Regions from separate parts of the Homo sapiens genome. Here all the other regions are linked to region 4. Evidence: fine-mapped expression QTL. A gene starts in region 4. Each other region holds a variant in brackets. All regions are shown on one strand. Distances are between the middles of the regions.

The links.
Region 1: its variant is fine-mapped to the expression of MARCHF2 in whole blood (TOPMed, PIP above 0.99).
Region 2: its variant is fine-mapped to the expression of MARCHF2 in hippocampus (GTEx, PIP 0.93).
Region 3: its variant is fine-mapped to the expression of MARCHF2 in anterior cingulate cortex (GTEx, PIP 0.98). The same link has a PIP of 0.9 or more in B cells, CD4 T cells, CD8 T cells, NK cells, monocytes and monocytes after LPS.

Annotation. Positions count from the first base shown.
Region 1 is chr19:8,484,042-8,489,186 of GRCh38, reverse strand. It overlaps HNRNPM (heterogeneous nuclear ribonucleoprotein M), which reads right to left. Exons shown (of 16, transcript NM_005968.5): 14 at 2,782-3,584; 15 at 2,112-2,163; 16 at 73-496. The coding sequence ends at 333. Among named protein-coding and RNA genes, the nearest start is that of PRAM1, 16 kb to the left of the region's middle. RefSeq lists enhancers at 1,578-1,627, 1,918-2,007. The variant ATCAG/G (reference allele first, on the strand shown) is at 2,534.
Region 2 is chr19:7,724,971-7,730,115 of GRCh38, reverse strand. It overlaps CLEC4G (C-type lectin domain family 4 member G), which reads left to right. Exons shown (of 9, transcript NM_198492.4): 7 at 1-97; 8 at 180-295; 9 at 612-1,159. The coding sequence ends at 750. Among named protein-coding and RNA genes, the nearest start is that of CLEC4G, 4.6 kb to the left of the region's middle. The variant G/A (reference allele first, on the strand shown) is at 3,206.
Region 3 is chr19:8,435,362-8,440,506 of GRCh38, reverse strand. MARCHF2 (membrane associated ring-CH-type finger 2) reads right to left here. Exons shown (of 5, transcript NM_001005415.2): 5 at 1,490-2,119. The coding sequence ends at 1,961. Among named protein-coding and RNA genes, the nearest start is that of HNRNPM, 7.0 kb to the left of the region's middle. The variant C/G (reference allele first, on the strand shown) is at 2,046.
Region 4 is chr19:8,410,764-8,415,908 of GRCh38, reverse strand. It overlaps MARCHF2 (membrane associated ring-CH-type finger 2), which reads right to left and starts at 2,604. Exons shown (of 5, transcript NM_001005415.2): 1 at 2,489-2,604. RefSeq lists silencers at 1-284, 2,438-2,597, 2,628-2,987 and enhancers at 2,479-2,979, 3,850-4,144.

The DNA of each region.
Region 1 (5,145 bases), 73 kb before region 4:
GACTGGAAGCTCGAGTGACCCCAGCTCCCCACACCTCGCGTGGTTGCCCACACAGCACACACAAGCAGGCCGTTTTCAGGAACCGGTATTTATTATCAAAGTCATATTCGATGTCAACAAGATGCCACAACTACAAAAAAAATTGCGCACATTGCAATCTCAATGCAAACAGTCAAATGGAACCCCAGTCATTAAAAAAGTAATTCAAATTACCCCAAAAAGCAACTGAATTTTTTAAACATCTTTATACATCCAGCCAACAAATTAAAATGGTTAACAAGAAAAAATACAAATTCAGAGGTCTCGTATCGATGTTTAAAAAAGGCAACTGCTTAAGCGTTTCTATCAATTCGAACGTCAATCTCTCGGCCACTCAGCTTCATGCCATTCATCATCCGGCAGGCTCTCTCGGCCACCTCTGGCGACTCGAACTTAACCACGCCACACCCCTTGGACTTCCCATTCTCCATCTTGATGTCGGCGTACAGCACGTGGCCTAGGACAGGGAGGGAAGAAGAGACGACACTCAGTCCCGATTTTGTTAGATTTTGGTGGACAGAGTCAAAAAGGAGAGGCCCTGAAGCCTAGAGCACAAAGGCTCAGAATACAATGGCGAGAACCAATGACTACGGCCCCCTCAGCCACACTGCCATTCTTCTGCTAACAGAGCCTGCCCCTGCCCCATGAAAAGCCTTCCTGGCGGATTCAATGCACGCCTTTACGCTTCAGGAAGTTCAAAAAAGAAGGCGCAGTGTAAAGCCAGCTTTATAGGCAGAAAGTTCCCATACATTTTACAAAGTCTTCATTTTTGATATGCCACCGCCCCTGGTTACAAAGCCATCCGCAATCCAATGGACACGTCTGTACTGTCCAAATGAAAGCCAGCAGGTTTCACTTATTCATTTGAGCACCCGTTAAGCATCCAGATATGTGTCAACGCCGTGGACAGAGCCCTAGAGGGCAAAGGCTCTACTCCAGGAGTACCAAAGGTGGTAGGGCCACAATGCCAGAGGTGGGAACTCAGTGCCTAAGAGAGGGCCCAGGGCAGGTAGGGTGGAGGGGTCCTCAGGGGCAAGTTCTGAGTGAGCTTACACAGAAATTCACCAGAAAGAAGACTTGCCAGTAATTGGCTCACACGAGAGCATTGCGGGACACGTGCAGCACTTGCCGCTCAGGTTCTGGGACAGGAGGGAGATGGAGGAGGATAGGACCAGGTCTTCAAGGGGCTTGTGAGTCTGGACTTCCTCTTGAAGGCACAGGGCCGCTCCAGGCATTGCAAAAGTGGGGGCTGGGGGCGCTGTGATCCCACTGGCCTTTTCAGAATATCTAGCTACAACATGGGAACTCAGGAGTGGGGAAAGAGGTGAAGAATGGAGCAAAGAGGCAGATCATGACTCAACGGCTTGCCCCAAGAACCATGGAGAAGCAGCAATGGTGGTGAAATCGGAGCCACTGCTGAAACAGGAAGCGGGAGGACAGTGCGGAAGCAGCTGCCCAGACCTCTAGCTCAGGCCCCTCTAGCTAAAAAGAACAGAGGTGGTGCATGCGGGGTGGGGGCTCACCCTGGAGGGCAGGGAAGGAAGACAACTTGCTTTCAGCCACAGACAGAGCCCTCCAGAAGAGTTGCCCGATGTGCCAGGAAACCACAAGACCTTAGCCTCACCCTCACAGGAGCTGCTGTGTGCCCAGAGCCTGCACCGCCTCCCCATGGCACCTGCTGGGCTGTGTTCTCTCCGAGGCCCCACACCAGCTGTGCTGAGGGGAAAGCGACCTCGTCTGGGATGTATTTATTTAGCCTTGCCACCTAGAAGCCAGGTAACCTCAGAAGGAAGACTCTGCCTGACTCATCTGTGAAATGGGGACACTACTACCTTGTTTCAAAGACTCAAAAAGAAAAAAGGAAGTAAGGATGAAATGAGAACACAGCTGAAAAACATGTGACACATCACAGGACACTCAACAACCTGCCTGAGCATTGGCGTGGGCAGAACATGGCAAGGCCATGGGTCCTGAGCCGACGGAGGGGGCTGGGAGGGAGGTTTTGCTGCTGACTCGGCTGCGTCACCAACAAGCACGAGGGAAGCACCTACAAAGCCGTTCCCAACACTTACCGCACTCGTTGAATTTGTCCTTTAGCATCTTCCATGTGAAATCGAATGGCAGCTGAAGGGGAGAAGAAAAGGGAGACTGATGCGTGATTAAACCAAATCCTAAGGCATGCCTTGCAGCTGGCTCTGAGGGCCATGCTAGATTTCTCACTATACCGAGAAGCTGGCTGCCCTTCAGACTGAGGCGATCAGCAGGAAACTAATAGATACATGTGGGACAAGGCTGTGAAGCGGCACAGCCAGCTCCCTCCCTGGGGCTCTGCCTGTGGGAGCACCGTGCAGGATGGGACACTCAGGCCTGCGGTGCGCAGCCCACAGTCACTAAATAGTGGCTAAGGGTGGCTGAGCTGGGGAAAATAATTCCGTTACAGCCACTTCTTTCCCTGGACCATCGTGCAACACATAGTGCCTCTTCAAGCCAACCA[ATCAG/G]AAACTGGAGTCTCTGAGCTCAGCGTCTGCTCCATATTCTAGCACAGTGGAGAAGCCCAGGCTCTTCCAGAACCCACAGTTCTCACATTCCTTACTTGTCCCACTAGCATAAAACGTTTGGGACAGTGGCAAGGAGGTGTGGTCCCCTTTGAAGGGCGCCACCTCTGACTTCATCCTGCTGATCTTTGCCTCCCCTGTCCCCTCATGCTCACCACCACCAAGAAGTTCCCCAAGAGCCACTTACATTTCTCACAAATATCTGGCAGGCCTTCCTGGCCACCCCAGGAGCATGGCCTCCAGCTCCACCAAAGGAACCTGCGAAGCTTCCTCCGAAGTTGCCACGCTCCATCTCGATGGCACGGTCAAAGCTGGCACCGCCACCGCCACCCATGGCCAGGCCCATGCGCTCAATGCCAGCGCCCAGGGCCGGGCCCATGGCAGGGCCCATGCGCTCGAGGCTGTTGGCACCCATGCGCTCCAGGCCCATGCGCTCGAGGCTGTTGGCGCCCATGCGCTCCAGGCCCATCCGCTCCAGATTGTTGGCGCCCATGCGCTCCAGGCCGGTGGCCATGCGATCCATCACGGGGCCCATGCGCTCCAGGCCAGCTCCCATACCTGCGGGCACCATGCGCTCCATGCTCAGGCCCATGCGCTCGATGGCAGGGCCCATGCGCTCCACGCCAGAGCCCATGCGCTCAATGGTCTGGCCCACACGGTCGATGGGAGCGGCCATGCGCTCAAGGCCGAAGCCCATGCCGGCACCCATGCGCTCCACGCCAGAGCCAATGCGCTCCATGGTCTGGCCCATGCGCTCAATGCTGGAGGCCATGTGGTCGAGGCCCAGCGGGCCCATGCGCTCAATGCCGGAGCCCATGCGCTCCACGGAGCCCATGCGGTCCATGACCAGGCCCATGCGCTCGATCTCGGAGCCCACGCGATCCATGCCGTGGCCCAGGCCCGCGCCCATGCGCTCCATGCCGGCACCCCCGAGGCGGTCAATGCCAGGACCCATCCTCTCGATCCCAGGGACGCTTCCTCCACCTCCACCTGAAACAGGGACACAAAACACAGGTGGGTGTCAAGAACTTGAGTGTGCGTGTGCACAACACGCCAGACCACTTCAGCTCATGGGCATGGATCAGGGGTAAAGGCCCACCATAATTTACCATTAAGACACCCCTCAAATGTTGACAACAGCTACAGCTGTGTGGTGGGCACATGGGGGCCTCCCAGCATTCTCTCTGCTCTATGCCACAGCTGAGATTTCCATAACACAACTTCTAAAGAACACCCCTGTATGTGTGTCTGTGAGGTGCTAGTGTCTGTGACAAGCTTTGTGAACCATGGACGTCAATTCCTGAGACATCTGAGGTTTCTCCATCAGCAGACACTGAGAAATGCTCCAGGGGGAGGCATGGACACCCCCCACTCGGGGGGCCACCCAGGGTAATGAACAGGAGTTATGTGGAGACAAGTCGGAGTCACTCCCACCTTCCCCTCCCAGCCTGTCCCTCTAGGATGCTCTGCTGGGGGCCACTCTGGCTGCATTTCCTCAGCGCTCCCAGGGCACAGAGAAAGGATTTTCGGCCACACCATCAAGCAGAGGTCAAAAAAACACACACCGAGAGATCCTCTGTGTACAAATGCACACAGCTGGCCACTTTTGGGGACCCTATTGTCAGGGAAACCAAATGACTTGCTGGCTTTGGAAAGAAGATGTTGATGGCACTGCAGAGTGGGCTCTGGTAGCGGCTGGGGGTCAGTCAGCAGAACGAAGGGACGCCCCCACCCGTGGTGCTTGCAACTCTGGAAAGCAGGGTCTGGCTCCGTCAGCAAGGCCACCCCTTTCCACATGCCGAGTTTGGGGCTCCTCCCCGAAACCCTGTCGCTTGCCTCTGAGAGTGGCCATCAGCCCAGAGCCAGCCTGTGACCGACCCAAGCAGCCTAGTCAAAGATACCAATTCAAGAGGAAACTGGGCAGTTTCTCTAACTGGCTCTGTAACTGGCCACACCGCGCCTGCTTCTCTAGCTGCACAGCACACAGTGAGCGGCCAAAGCAGGCCCGACTCTAAGAATGTGTGACTTTCAGAGGGGAGACGTCTCAGAACTTCCCCACAGTATAAGGAACCTAGCGAGAATGGGCACTTTGCCCAAAGGCATCAGAAATGAGGTGGGGCAGCTGGGTGTGGTGGCTCATGCCTGTAATCCCAGTACTTTGGGAGGCCAAGGCGGGCGGAACAAGGTCAGGAGTTCGCGACCAGCCTGGCCAACATGGTGAAACCCCATCTCTACTAAAATTGCAAAAATTAGCTGGGTATGGTGGCGTGCGCCCGTAGTCCCAGCTACTTGGGAGGCTGAGGCAGGAGAATCGCTTGAACCCAGGAGACGGAGGTCACAGTGAGCCGAGATCGTGCCACTGCACTCTAGCCTGGGCGACAGAGTGAGACTCCGTCTCTCAAAAAAAAAAAAAAAAAAAGAAATGGGAGGAAATGGTACCAGCGTGGAGCTCCAGAGCCAGCCCAACACAGAAGTCAGGAGGTGAGATGCCAAGATACTCAGAGGGAAAATCAGGCTGAAAAAGTACATTTGGGCCAGGTGTGGTGGCTCA
Region 2 (5,145 bases), 690 kb after region 4:
CTTTTTCTCTGTGCCAAAGACGACGTGGGCGGCGGCGCAGGATCACTGCGCAGATGCCAGCGCGCACCTGGTGATCGTTGGGGGCCTGGATGAGCAGGTGCGCAGGGGGAGGGGGCGTGGTCAGGCGGTGGGGCAGGGCGGGGCGGACTCTGCAGGCTCAGATGTCCCCTCCTTTCTAGGGCTTCCTCACTCGGAACACGCGTGGCCGTGGTTACTGGCTGGGCCTGAGGGCTGTGCGCCATCTGGGCAAGGTTCAGGGCTACCAGTGGGTGGACGGAGTCTCTCTCAGCTTCAGGTGAGGGAAAGGCTCCTGGTGAGACCTGGGGAGGGAGACAGGTTAGGCTCTAGAGGACATGCTTTGGCTAGATCTCAGGGACCCCTCGGCTGGGGCTCCATACTTAGGGATGGGCAGGCTGGACCCCAGGAACTGTCCTCAGGTTAAATTCTGGGCGTTAAAAAGTTATATACCAGGTGTATACTCAGGTTAGACAGTTGGGGTGTCTAGAGTAGACCCAAGCAATAAACAGGCTAGAGCCTGAAGAGGAAGGCGGGACCCCGAGTTCATCCTCTGTCTAGATTCCCAGCAACACCCCCACTCAACCCCCCTGTAGCCACTGGAACCAGGGAGAGCCCAATGACGCTTGGGGGCGCGAGAACTGTGTCATGATGCTGCACACGGGGCTGTGGAACGACGCACCGTGTGACAGCGAGAAGGACGGCTGGATCTGTGAGAAAAGGCACAACTGCTGACCCCGCCCAGTGCCCTGGAGCCGCGCCCATTGCAGCATGTCGTATCCTGGGGGCTGCTCACCTCCCTGGCTCCTGGAGCTGATTGCCAAAGAGTTTTTTCTTCCTCATCCACCGCTGCTGAGTCTCAGAAACACTTGGCCCAACATAGCCCTGTCCAGCCCAGTGCCTGGGCTCTGGGACCTCCATGCCGACCTCATCCTAACTCCACTCACGCAGACCCAACCTAACCTCCACTAGCTCCAAAATCCCTGCTCCTGCGTCCCCGTGATATGCCTCCACTTCTCTCCCTAACCAAGGTTAGGTGACTGAGGACTGGAGCTGTTTGGTTTTCTCGCATTTTCCACCAAACTGGAAGCTGTTTTTGCAGCCTGAGGAAGCATCAATAAATATTTGAGAAATGAATCCAGGATCCTGGCTCTGGCGAGATCTTCTGTGCTTTATTCCGGATGTCCTAGTTTAATCCGTACGAGTGACCCCTGGACTCTCTCAGTGACCTCTTGGCCTTTGGTGGGTAACTTGCCCTGGGCCAGGAGGGCTTGAAGGTAGGGGCAGTTTCCCACTCTACACCATTACTTCCTCAGTCCCTGGCATGGGGCTTGGCTCAGAGGGTGCTGGGGACACAGAAATGGGTCAGACGCAGTCCTTTCCCCTGGGACCGCTGCATTCTGGTCTAGCGGGGTACAGGAACAAAATGACCAGTAATGTAATGGATGAGTGTGTGGAGAGGACACCTGAAGCATTTGGAAGGGTCACCTTTGTCTTTGGGGAGAGGGACCATCCTGAGATACTGCAGTCCTTGAGAAGACTGTCACGTCTTCGTGGAGATTATGGGCATCCTGAGACAGGCCCTTGAGGCAGGTGGGGGACAGGGTACCCTGATGGAACGAGCAGGTCCCTTCTGCTCAGTGCATCTAGGGTCTGTGACTATTGGATGGGTCAGTCAGGAAATACATTCCAGAGAAGGTGGATTTTCCAAGGGACAATGGAATTTTGAGTAGATGAAGCTGGGAAGGTAGGACTTTGGAAGCAGAAGGTCCAGGAAGAAAAAGGCTTGGAGAGTGGGTGTGGTGGTGCAAGCTCGTAGTCCCAGTTACTCGGGAGGCTGAGGTGGGAGAATTGCTTAAGCCTAGGAGTTTGAGACGGCAGTGAGCTATGATCTTGCCTGTTGATATAGTCACTGTTCTCCATTCTGGGCAATGCAGTGACACCATATCTCAAAAAAAAGGAATACTAGGAGGTTGGAAGGTATACAGATTGCTGAATTCACACAGCAGTATATGTTACATAGAACCTGGGTTTCTCAACCAGGGACTTTTGATCTGAATTCACCCTACACTCCCAGTTTCTTGCTTCCATCTCGGAGAGTTAGGGGCTCTCCAAGAATTTCCCATGGAGACAGGTTCAACAGGGGAGTGACAGGTTGGCAGCTTTTAGTTCTGTGCAGAACGGAGTCTAGAACTACAGGCTGCTGGGAGCCCCCAGGCTGCTGGACCGTATAACAGCATCAGCTGAGCAGGAAATAGAAGGAACACCATCACATTCCCTGGCCAGGTGGAACTCTTCCACTGCTGTAACCTGTCAACCCCCCTATCCTCTGATCTTTCTAAACTTGCAGTCTGGAGCAGGCACTGGGCAAGTCCAGGAGCCTATTGACTTGCCTACTGGACTGAGGGCCAGGCTGCTGGACTTCCAGACACAGTTGGCTTGGAGGAGTGTTTGAGTTTCCCACCACTACTGTAATGGATTTTGCTGGGCAAAAACCAAGGTCTAAGGATGTATTAATCCGTTCTCATGCTGCTAATAAAGACATACCTGATACTGGGTAAGTTATAAAGGGAAGAGGTTTAATGGACTCGCAGTTCCACATGGCTGGGGAGGCCTCACAATCATGGCAGAAAGGAAAGGAAGAGCAAAGGCATGTCTTACATGGTGGCAGGCAAGATAACTTGCGCAGGGGAACTCTCATTTATAAAACCATCAGATCTTGAGGCTGGGCATGGTGGCTCACGCTTGTAATCCCAGCACTTTGGGAGGCCAAGGCGGATGGATCACGAGGTCAGGAGTTCGGGACCAGCCTGGCCAAGAGACCAGCCTGGCCAATATGGTGAAACCCCATCTCTACTAAAAATACAAAAATTAGCTGGTCGTGGTGGCAGGCGCCTGTAATCCCAGCTACTCGGGAGGCTGAGGCAGGAGAACTGCTTGAGCCCAGGAGGCAGAGGTTGCAGTGAGCCGAAGGTCATGCCATTGCACTCTAGCCTGGGTGACAGAGCAAGAGTTCATCTCAAAAAAAAAAATTAAAAAATTAAAAAATAAAACCATCAGATCTTGAGAGACTCATACACCACCACAAGAACAGTATGGGGAAAACTGCCCCCGTGATTCAATTATCTCCACCTGGCCCCACCCTTGATCCACAGGGATTATTACAATTCAAGGTGAGATTTGGGGAGGC[G/A]GACACAGCCAAACCATATCAAAGGGAAAATGTTTCTTTACCTCTTCTTTAGCTTTTCTAGAGCTGTTGTCCTCATCCTTCTTGACTCCTGGACCCTTCTTCCATCTTCAAAGGCAGTAGGGTAGCATCTAGCTTCAGCCATGACAATTACTTCTTCTGTATCAAATCTCTCTAGGAATGCCCCCACAATCACCTTTTTTTGAGACAGGGTCTTGCTCTGTCACCCAGGCTGGAGTGTAATAGCACGATCATAGTTCACTGCAGCCTCAACCTCCTGGGCTCAAGAAATCCTCCTGCCTCAGCCTCCCAAGTAGCTGGGACTACAGGCATGCACCACCACACCCAGCTATTTGTTAGTTTTTTTGTAGAGATGGGGTGTCACTATGCTGCCCAGGCTGGTCTTGCCTCCTTCTTATATGAACAGTTGGGATTGCATTTAGGGCCTGACCTGATAGTACAGGATGATCTCCTGTGGTTCCTTTTTTTTTTTTTTTTTTTAATTTTCTTTTTGAGGCAGGATCTCGCTTTGTCACCTGGGCTGGAGTGCGGTAGCATGAACATGGCTCACGGCAGCCTTGACTTCCCAGGTTCAAGTTCAAGCAATCCTCCAGGCTCAAACAATCCTCCTGCCTCAACCTCCTGAGTAGCTGGGACTACAGGCGTGTGCCACCATGCCTGGCTAATTTTTTTTATTTTTTTGTAGAGAAGCGGTCTCATTATGCTGCCCAGGCTGGTCTCAAACTCCTGAGCTCAAGTGATTCGCCTACCTTGGCCTCCCAAAGCACTGGGATTACAGGCATGAGCCACTGCTCCTGGCCTCCTGTAATTCTAAATGCAGTTCTGCCACTATTCACCCAGATAGTGCAGACTCCACCCAGAGGTTAAGGACACAGTCCCCATCAAGACTGCTCTCATTTCAGATACCAGCTACAAGTTTGGGGATCCCCAGCCACCCACATTTCTGATCAACTGCCTACAAATTCTCATGACCCCTTCAGGTTCCATAATTCACTAGAATGACTCCCAGAACTTAGGAAATGCTATGCTTACGATTTCAGTTTGTTTTTTGTTTTGTTTTGTTCTTTGTTTTGTTTTGTTTTTTTGTTTGTTTTTTGAGACAGTGTCTCGCTCTTTCGCCCAGGCTGGAGTGCAGCGGTGCGACCTCAGCTCACTGCAACCTCTGCCTCCCGGGTTCAAGCAATTCTCCTGCCTCAGCCTCCCAAGTAGCTGGGACTACAGGCGCCCGCCACCACCATGCCTGGCTAATTTTTATATTTTTAGTAGAGATGGGGTTTCACCATGTTAGCCAGGATAGTCTCACTCTTTTGATCTGGTGATCCACCCGCCTTGGCCTCCCAAAGTGCTGGGATTACAGGCATGAGCCACTGTGCCTGGCCCTGATTTCAGTTTTCTTAACAAAATACAAATCAGGACCTGCCAAATGAGAAGATACATAGGGTGAGGTCTGGGAAGGTCCCAAACACGGAGCTCCTGTGTCCTTCCCCATAACGTCAGCACACATCACTCTCTCTATGCCTTCCCCACTCTCAGGGTGATGGGTTCACCAGCCAGGAAGCTCCAGAGCTCGGTGTCCTGAGTTTTTTTGGGGTTTCAGTATGTAGGCAGGATTGATCCAATTACTCCTTCAGTGTTTCAGTTTTGTTTGTTTTTTTTTTTTGAGACCCGGTCTTGCCCTGTTGCCCAGGCTGGAGTGCAGTGGCATAATCATAGCTCACTGCAGCCTCAACCTTCTGGGCTCAAGTGATCCTCCCACCTCTCAGCCTCTCGAGTAGCTGGAACTACAGGCACATGTCACCACCCTGTCCAGCTAATGTTTGTATTTTTTGTAGAGACGGGGTTTCACCATATTGTTCAGGTTGGTCTTGAGCTCCTGAGCTCAAGTGATCCTCCTGCCTTGGCCTCCCAAAGTGCTGGGATTA
Region 3 (5,145 bases), 25 kb before region 4:
GCTGGTCTCAAACTCCTAGGCTCAACTGATCCTCCTGCCGAAGCCTCCCAAAATGCTGGGATTACAGGCATCAGCCACCAGGCCTGGCCCATGCTGGACTCTCTACACTTAACTAAAAACTAACAGTGGCTAGGCGCAGTGGTGCATGCCTGTTGTCCCAGCTGCCAGGGAGGCTGAGACAGGATTGCCTGAGCCCAGGAGGTCGAGGCTGGAGTGAGCTGTGTGATTGTGCCTCTGCACTCCAATCTGGGTGACAGAGCAAGACCCCATCTCAAAAAAAGAAAAACAGAGGCCAGCATGGTCTGTGGACTGGCAGATGCAAAGTAAGAGGAAATTGTTCTTATGTCTATTTTATTTTTCTATTTTTTATTTTTTGAGACAGAGTTTCACGATGTCACCCAGTCTGAAATGCAGTGGTGCAACTGATCTCAGCTAACTGCAACCTCTGTCTCCCAGGTTCAAGCCATTCTCCTGCCTCAGCCTCCCGAGTAGCTGGGATTACAGGTGTGCGTCTCCACGCCCAGCTAATTTTTGTATTTTTAGTAGAGATGGGGTTTCACCATGTTGGCCAGGCTGGTCTCGAACTCCTGACCTCAGGTGATCCACCCATCTCGGCCTCTCAAAGTGTGATTACAGGCATGAGCCACCATGCCCAGCCCGTATGTATATTTTAAAAATCATTTTTATAACCCTGCTACCTGATTTTTACTTGAAGACTGAGCCTTTGCTTCTTCCCATGGGCTTCAGAACAGATCCCTCAAAACAAGCCAGTGGTTTTTATTGTTTTTTATTTTATTTTATTTTTTTTGAGACAGAGTCTCGCTGTCTCACCCAGGCTAGAGTGCAATGGTGCGATCTTGGCTCACGGCAACCCCTGCCTCCCGGGTTCAAGCGATTCTCCTGCCTCAGCCTCCCGAGTAGCTGGGACTACAGGTATCTGCCACCACGCCTGGCTCATGTTGTATTTTTAGTAGAGACGAGATTTAACCATATTGGCTAGGCTGGTCTCGAACTCCTGACCTTGTGATCCGCCCACCTCAGCCTCCCAAAGTGCTGGAATTCCATGCATGAGCCACTGTGCCTGGCCAACCAGTGTTTTTTGTTGTTGTTTTGTTTTGTTTTGTTTTGGAGATGGAGTCTCTCTCTGTCGCCAGGTTGGAGTGCAGTGACGCCATCTCAGCTCACTGCAACCTCCACCTCCCAGGTGCAAGCGATTCTCCTGCATCAGCTTCCTGTGTAGCACCTGGGATTACCGGCGCGCACCACCATGCCCAAGTAATTTTTATATTTTTAGTAGAGACAGGGTTTCACCATGTTAGCCAGGATGGTCTCGATCTCTTGACCTTGTGATCCACCCACCTCAGCCTCCCAAAGTGCTGGGATTACAGGAGTGAGTCACTACACCTGGCTGGCCGCCAGTGTTATTTTTTTACCTCCATGTGGTCCCTCCCTGGGAGGCCTCCTTTGAGAAACATAACTGACAAGTCCATTTTGTCCAGCCAGGGCTCCTTTTATTCATTCAGGGGTGGGTTTTTGAAACGCAGTGCAACTTTTATATAAAGTCGAGGGTGCCAGGAAAGTGGGCCTGCCGGGTGCAGAGAAGCGCAAGAAGCTTGCTGGAATGTTCCAGCTTTAAGGGCGCCCTTGATACACCGGCCACAGCTGCTGGCCCAGAAGGTGCCATGTGGACCTCAGAATGAGATCAGGGTGCCTGCTCCGTCCAGAGCTCAGGACCATGTCCACCTGTCCTCCATATGCAAAAAAAAAAAAAAAAAAACCCTGAAAATATCTTCACACAGGATCACAGACTAGGCTCTGCATGGTGTCTCTTGGCCTAAGAAGCGTTCAGGCCGTGCGGGAACTGTTGAAGTGGAAGTGTTGAAGTGGAAGTCCTTCCACAGGACAGGGTATCACCAGCTACCTCTGGCCTCTCTGCTGCAGGGTCCGGAGAGCCCAGCATTCATACTGGTGTCTCCTCTGCCACCTTCTTCAGGAGTCCAGCTGCCAGTGGAGAATGCTGGGGGCCCTCGGGGCTGTCCGCCTCC[C/G]GGATCTTCAGGCGAACTTTCTGGTTGGTCTTTCTCCACTCGGAGTACAGCTGGCAGTGGTAGCGGAAGGAGACCTGTGGGGCAGCCCTGCAGTGAGCGGAGGCCTCCACCCGCAAGGGAGGAAAACAAGTCGCCGTGGTGGCACCTGCGTTGGCCCAAACCATGGCTGGGGCTCATGCTTCCAGAAGCAGAGCTGGCTTATGAACATTCCTCCCACAAAGTGCACACACACAGACCCATTCACACTCCTGGTGACACCCACCAGCTTCCAGAGTCCTGCAAAGACAAGATACACCCCACACACACCAGCAGGAAGCAAACGGGAGCTCCTTTCCTGCCTCTCAGTGGGAAAGGAGTGAAACAGCCTCTTGGAAGGCATTAAATGTCAATCAATCAGGCCGGGCGAGGTGGCTCACACCTGTAATCCCAGTAGTTTGGGAGCCCGGGCACGGGGGAAGATCACTTGAGCTCAGGAGTTCAAGATCAGCCTGGGCAACATGGAGAAACCCTGTCTCTACTAAAAACCCCGTCTCTACTAAAAATACAAAAATTAGCCTGGCGTGGTGGCACGGACCTGTAGTCCCAGCTACTTGGGAGGCTGAGGCAGGAGAATCGCCTGAGCCTGGGAGATATGGGCCGCAGTGAGCCGAAATCACGCCACTGCACTCCAGCCTGGGCGACAGAGTGAGACCCTGTCTCAAAAAAATTTTTTTAATGTAAATCAGTCACATAATTGCCAAAACGTGCAACCAGAACGTGCAAACAAAAAAAAAAAGTTTAAAAAAAAAAAAGTCACTCAATAGGTGAATGAGGCCAGGCGTGGTGGCTCACGCCTGTAATCCCAGCACTTTGGGAGGCCAAGGCAGGTGGATCATGAGGTCAGGAGATCGAGACCATCCTGGCTAACACGGTGAAACGCCATCTCTACTGAAAATACAAAAAATTAGCCGGCCGTGGTGGTGGGCGCCTGTAATCCCAGCTACTCGGGACGCTGAGGCAGGAGAATGGTGTGAACCTGGGAGGCAGAGCTTGCAGTGAGCCGAGATCGCACCACGGCACTCCAGCCTGGGCGACAGAGCGAGACTCCGTCTCAAAAAAAAAAAAAAAAAAAATAGGTGAATGAATAAATAAACAGTGGTGCTTCCAGATAATGAGATCTTATTCAGTGCTAAAAAGAAACGAAGCTGGGTAAGGTGGCTCATGCCTGTAATCCCAGCACTTTAGGAGGTCGAGGCGTGGGGACCACTTGAGCTCAGGAGTCGAAGGCCAGCCTAGGCAACATAGCGAGACCTTGTCTCTACCAAATATTTAAAAATTAGCCAGGTGTGGTGGCCCAGGCCTGTGGTCCCAGCTACTTAGGAGGCTGGGGTAGGAGAATCATTTGAGCCCTGGAGGTTGACGCTGCAGCAAGCTGTGCTCACGCCACTGCAATCCAACAGAGTGAGATCCTGTCTCAAAAAAAAAAAAAAAAATGCTGGGCGCAGTGGCTCAAACCTGTAATCCCAGCACTTTGGGAGGCCAAGGTGGGTGGATCACCTGAGGTCCAGAGTTTGAGACCAGCCTGACCAACATGGAGAAATCCCATCTCTATTAAAAATACAAAATTAGCCAGGCATGGTGGCGGGTGCCTGTAATTCCAGCTACTCAGGAGGCTGAGGCAAGAGAATCGCTTGAACCTGTGGGGGAGGGGTGCGGAGGCTGCGGTAAGCCGAGATCGCTCCACTTCACTCCAGCCTGGGTGAAAGAGCGAGACTCTGCCTCAAAAAAAAAAAAAAAAAAAAAAAGAAAGCCCTTAAGCCACGAAAATAACCTTAAATGCTTATCACCAAATGAAATAAACCAACCTGAAGATGCTGCATACTGAATGACTCCAACTATAGGACATTCTGGAAAAGGCTAAACCATGGAGACAGTAAAAAGATCAGCAGTGGATAGGGCTTGGGGAAAAGGAGGGTGGCATGAATAGAGAGAGCACAGAGGACTTTTAGGGCAACGAAACTACTCTGTCTGATATTATAATGGTGAATATGGCTGGGTGCAGTGGCTCACACCTGTAATCCTAGCCCTTTGGGAGGCCAAGGTGGGCAGATCACGAGGTCAAGAGATCGAGACCATCCTGGCCAACATGGTGAAACCCCATCTCCAATAAGAATACAAAAATTAGCTGGGCGTGGTGGCACAGGCCTGTAGTCCCAGCTACTCGGGAGGCTGAGGCAGGAGAATCGCTTGAACCCAGGAGGCGGAAGTTGCAGTGAGCCAAGATCGCACCACTGCACTCCAGCCTGGCACACAGTGAGACTCTGTCCCCCCCAAAAAAAAAAATAGTGAATACATGTCATTATACATTCATCAAAACTTATAAATGTCCAACAGCAAGAGTCAACTCCTAGCCTGGGCAACATGGCAAAACCCGGTCTCCACCAAAAAAATACAAAAATTAGCCAGGCGTGGTGCACACATCTGTAATACTAGCTACTCAGGAAGCTGAGGTGGGAGGATCAATTGAGCCTGGGAGGTTGAGGCTGCAGTGAGCCATGATCACGCCACACTGCACTGCAGCCTGGGTGACAAAGAACAATCCTATCCCCTCCCCGCCACACACACACACACACACACACACACACACACACACAGGCCAGGTGCAGTGGCTCACACCTATAATCCCAGCACTCTGGGAAGCCAAGGTTTGAGCCCAGGAGTTTAAGACCAGATACAACAACATAGCAAAACACTGTCTCTACAAAAAATACAAAAACTAGCCAGGTGTGGTAGTGGGCACCTATGGTCCTAGTTACTTGGGAGGGCCGAGGTGGGAGGATCGCTTGAGCCCAGGAGGTAGAGGTTGCAGTGAGCGGAGATCACACCACTGCACTCCAGTCTGAGAGACAGGGCGAGATACCATCTCAAAACAAACAAACAAAAGAAGTGAATCCTAATGTGAACTATGGCTTTAAAGGGATAATGAAGGTTCACTGATTGTAACAAATGCACTGCTTGGGTAAACGATGTTAATAGTGGGGGAGGCTGTGCAAGTTGTGTGCGTATGGAGCAGGGTGATATACAGGAACTCTCTGTACTTTCTGCTAAATTTTGCTGTGAA
Region 4 (5,145 bases):
TGGAAGAGGCCAAACTTGAGGCTGGACACAAAGAGAGGGTGACTGCAAGTCGGACTCAGCTCTGAGGCTGCTGAAATGGGAGAGTGATCTGATGGCTCCAGCAAACTTGGCCCAGTGCCCAGGAGATTTATTTCTCTTCTTTCTTTTGTCTGGTTTTTTTTTTTGTTTTTTTTGTTTTTTTTTTTTTGAGATGGAGTTTCACTCTTGTTGCCCAGGGTGGAGAGCAATGGCACCACCTCGGTTCTCTGCAACCTCCGCCTCCCAGGTTCAAGCGATTCTCCTGCCTCAACCACCAGAGTAGCTGGGATTACCGGTGCCCTCCACCCACAGCTGGCTAATTATTTGTATTTTTAGTAGAGACGGGGTTTCACCATGTTGGCCAGGATGGTCTCAAACTCCTTATCTCAGGTGATCCACCCGCCTTGGCTTCCCAAAGTGCTGGGATTACAGGCATGAGTCACCGCGCCTGGCCTATTTCTTTTCTTTCTTTTGTCTGTTTTTTTTTTTTTTTCTTTTGAGGCAGGGTCTCAATCTGTCACCCAAAAGGCTGGAGGGCAGTGTAGTAATCACAGCTCACTGAAGCTTCCACCGCCCCCAGGTTCAGGTGATCCTCCCACCTCAGCCTCCTGAGTAGCTCTGCACACCACCACATCCAGCTAATTTTTGTATTTTTTTGTAGAAATGGTGTTTTGCCAAGTTGCCCAGGCTGGTCCTGAACTCCTGGCCTAGTGATCTGCCCGCCTTGGCCTCTCAAAGTGTTGGGATTACAGGCATGAGCCACCACGCCCGGCCTGGAGATAGATCTCATTGAGTCTTCACAACAAACCAATAATTACACCCTATGATGGGGAAAGAGGCTGAAGCTCGGAGAGAGGCACCTACTTTCCCAAGGTCATATAGCTAGGAAGGGGTGGTGTCAGAATTTGAACTTAAAACAGTCCAGGGAGTGGTTCTGGACCTCAAGAGACCTGGGTTCTTTAACTCCTGGCCCTCCTGGCTATGCCACCGATGCTGGGTGTCCTGGTTCAAGTCACTTTGCTTCTCTGGGCCTCATTCTAATGATGGAGCTGGTGGACTCTGTCCGTGGAGGGGTCTCCTGAGAAGGAGCCTCCAGGCTGAATTCATCCAGTAAAGCTCACCCTTAGCTAGGCTTGTTTAGGGTGGCACTGAGGCCCCCCAGTCTTTTCCATACCTGCCCAGGCTCCTTTTCCTGAAGGTAGGAAACAGAGGGCAGAGGAATCAGAGGGCCCTAAAACTCCCTACATTGTGGTCTCAGGCAGCTGTTTTACTCTCTCAGCCTCAGTATTATCATCTCTAAAATGAGTGTTACAGGCCGGGCGCAGTGGCTCACGCCTGTAATCCCAGCACTTTGTGCACTTTGGGAGTTCAAGGAAGGTGGATCACTTGAGGCCAGGAGTTCGAGACCAGCCTGGTCAACATGGTGAAACCCCGTTTCTGCTAAAAAGACAAAAATTGGCCAGGCACGGTGGCGGGGGCCTGTAATCCCAACTACTTGACCAGGGTGAGGTAGGAATCGCTTGAATCTGGGAGGCAGAGGTTGCAATGAGCTCAGATCGTGCCACTGCATTCCAGCCTGGGCAAGAGAGAGAGACTCTGTCTAAAAAAAAAAAAGACGGGGAGTCATAATGATATGTAGTTCATAAATTAGTAAAAAATTAAGAAGTTAATAACTATTAGCTCTTATTATAATTACTATCATCAGCTTACAGAGTTGTTGATGAGAGGTCACACAGTCAACCCTGGCACACACAGTAAGTGCTCAATAAAAGCTCTATTAATATTTTTTAGGGTAAATGTGGAGGTTGTTATTGCATTCATTCCTCCCTGCATGAGAAGCAAGGTTCCAATCCCAGCTCTACTCCTTATGTGCTGTGTGGCCCTGGGCAAGACACTTAACCTCTTTGAGCCTGGACTCTCTCAACTGTATAACAGGGGACATTTCTACTGCTTCCACCTACTCAGTATGGTTTCAAAAGAACTGAATGAGCTCAACATGCCCATTTGACTACCCCGTTTTGAGCACCCACATAGCACAGGGCATCCTGTTTCAGCATCTTTGTGCAAAGTGGCTGGGTCATTATATTATAACTTACTATTTTGCAGGCAGAGCCGCTCTGAGAAGGAGGTTGGGGAAGGGCATTGGCCACTTAGCAGTTGCCTACTGTGTGTCAGGCGTTTTCTGCACCAGCCACCTCCTGAATCCTCCCAGAAGCCCCATCAGGTTGGCAATGGGATGACCCAGTTTCACAGGTGGGGAAACCGAGGCTCGGAGAGGCGCCTATGTGTGCCGGACCCCGGAGACCTCCCACCGGCCTTGACACGGGAACTGAGGTCCCCGCGTCCCCGAGAAGGCTGTGGCCAAGGGATCGAGCCCAGCCGTCCCGCCCGGGTGCCGAGCTCCGGCCTCGAACCCGGGGCCGGCCCGCGGACTGGCGTCCTCCGGCCCTACCTGCAGGCCCGTGCCTACCTGATCCGCGGCCGGGCCGGGCGGCCGCACAGGCCCCTCGGTTCGCCTCGGCCCCGGTCCCGGCCCGGCCCGGCCCGTCGGCGCCACTAGCTCCGCTCCGGCCGGCACCTGCGTCCGGGCACCGCCCGCCGAGCCGACAGCGCCGCGGACCAATAGCGACCGCCTCTCGCCTGCATTCGCCAATCGCCTTGCACGTCCCGCCCTAAGAGGCGGGGCCGGAGGCCACAGGGACGACTTGGGCCGCACAGGCCCCGCTGTGCCGCAGCTGCTGGCTCCGCCCCTGCCGCGTCTTGGCTCCGCCCCCAGCTCCGGCTCCGCCCCAGCACTGGCCCCGCCCCAGCCCCGCCCCAGGCACGAGGGGGTGCTGCTGCGCCACCTGCAGACGGCCAGCGTCCTCTAATAAATAAAACCTCTGCAGAATTTAACTTTTTTTTTTTTGAGACTGGCCGGGTGCAGTGGCTCATGCCTGTAATCGGAGCACTTTGGGAGGCCGAGACGGAAGGATCGCTTGAGGCCAGATGTTGGGGACCAGCCTGGGCAACATGGTGAGTTCCCGTCTCTACAAAAAATTTAAAAGGATGGGCGCGGTGGCTCACGCCTGTAATCCTAGCACTTTGGGAAGCCGAGGCGGGCGGATCACGAGGTCAGGAGATCGAGACCATCCTGGCTAACACGGTGAAACCCCGTCTCTACTAAAAATACAAAAAAATTAGCCGGGCGTGGTGGCGGGCGCCTGTAGTCCCAGCTACTCGGGAGGCTGAGGCAGAGGAATGGCGTGAACCCGGGAGGCAGAGCTTGCAGTGAGCCGACATCGCGCCACTGCACTCCAGCCTGGGTGACAGAGTGAGACTCTGTCTCAAATAAATACATAAATAAATAAATAATAAAATAAAATAAAATAAAAGTTAGCCAAGTGTGGTGGCCCAGGCCTGTAGTCCCAGCTGCTCTGGAGGCTGAGGCAAGAGGATCACTTGAGCCCAGGAGTTCGAGGCCAGTCTGGGCAACATAGTAAACTCACCCACCCCCATCTCTAAGACAGATCAATTTTTAAAAAAATACTGCACTATATGTTCACTTAGTATAAGCACACTTTTGCACATAATCACAGTATAACCTTCAAAATCAGAAAATTAATGTTCATCTAATATTATCATGTAATTCCCAGAGCCCATTCAAAGGCCAGGTGCAGTGACTCATGCCTGTAATCCCAGCACTTGGATCATTTGAGGTCAGGAGTTCGAGACCAGCCCGGCCAACATGGTGAAACCCTGTCTGTACTAAAAATACAAATAATTAGCTGGGTTTTGTTGTGGGCACCTGTAATTCCAGCTACTCAGGAGGCTGAGGCAGGAGAATTGCTTGAATCTGCAAGGTGGAGGTTGCAGTGAGCGGAGATCTTGCCACTGCACTCTAACCTGGGCAACACAGCCAGACTCTGTCTCAAAAAAAAGAAAAGAAAAGTTTCCAATAAAGTCCTTTAAAAATCCAAAGTCCAGGCCAGGCACAGTGAGTCATGTCTGCAATCCCAGCTCTTTGGGAGCCCAAGGCAGGAAGGTCTCTTGGGTCTAGGAGTCTGAGATCAGTCTGGGCAGCACAGTGAGACCCCATCTCTACAAAATAAAATAAAAATATTAGCCAGTTGTGGTGGCATCCTCCTGTGGTCCCAGCTACTTGGGAGGCTGAAGTGAGAGGATCAATTGAGCCCAGGAGTTCTGGGCTGCAGTGAGCCATTACCTCACCACTGCATTCCAGCCTGGGCAACAGAGCAAGATCCTGTGTCAAAAAACAAAAAATCCCAAATCCATCCCAGGATCAAGCATTGTATTTTGTTGTTAACGACTCTAATTTAGTCTCTCTTTCTGGAACATTTTATCAATCTTACCTTCTCTCCATGACATCAATATTTTTCAAAAATTCCAGGCTAGTAATTTTGCAGGAAGTCCTTCCATTGCTATTTGTCTAATACTTTCTCATGATTTTGCATTTGTGGCAGGAAACAGATGTGACGTTGTGTTTTCAGGATGCATACAATGCTGATTTTGTCCACTATCGATTGTGCTAACTTGGTTCAAATGGTGTCTGCCAGTTTCTCCAGTGTGAGGTTAGTATGTTACACTGTGGTGTTTTGTTGTTGTTGTTGTTTTTAATATTTTATTTAATTTTAATTTTTTTTTTTTTTTTTTGAGACAGAGTCTCACTCTGTCACCCAGGCTGGAGTGCAATGGTGTGGTCTCAGCTCACTGCAACCTCTGCCTCCCAGGTTCAAGGGATTCTCCTGGCTCACCTCCCGAGTAGCTGGGATTACAGGCCCGCACCACCACGCCCAGCTAATTTTTGTGTTTTTAGTAGAGGCAGGTTTCACTATGTTGGTCAGGCTGGTCTTAAACGCCTGACTTCAAGTGATCTGCCCACTTCCGCCTCCCAAAGTGCTGGGATTACAGGCAGGAGCCACCACGCCCGACCAATTTTTTTTTTCTTTTTTGGCGATGGAGTCTCATTCTGTGGCCCAGACTGGAGTGCAGTGGCGCCCTCTCTGCTCACTGCAACCTCCGCCACCGGTTCAAGTGATTTTCCTGCCTCAGCCTCCTGAGTAGTTGTGATTACAGGCCCGCACCACCACGTCCAGCTAATTTGTGTATTTTTAGTAGAGATGGGGT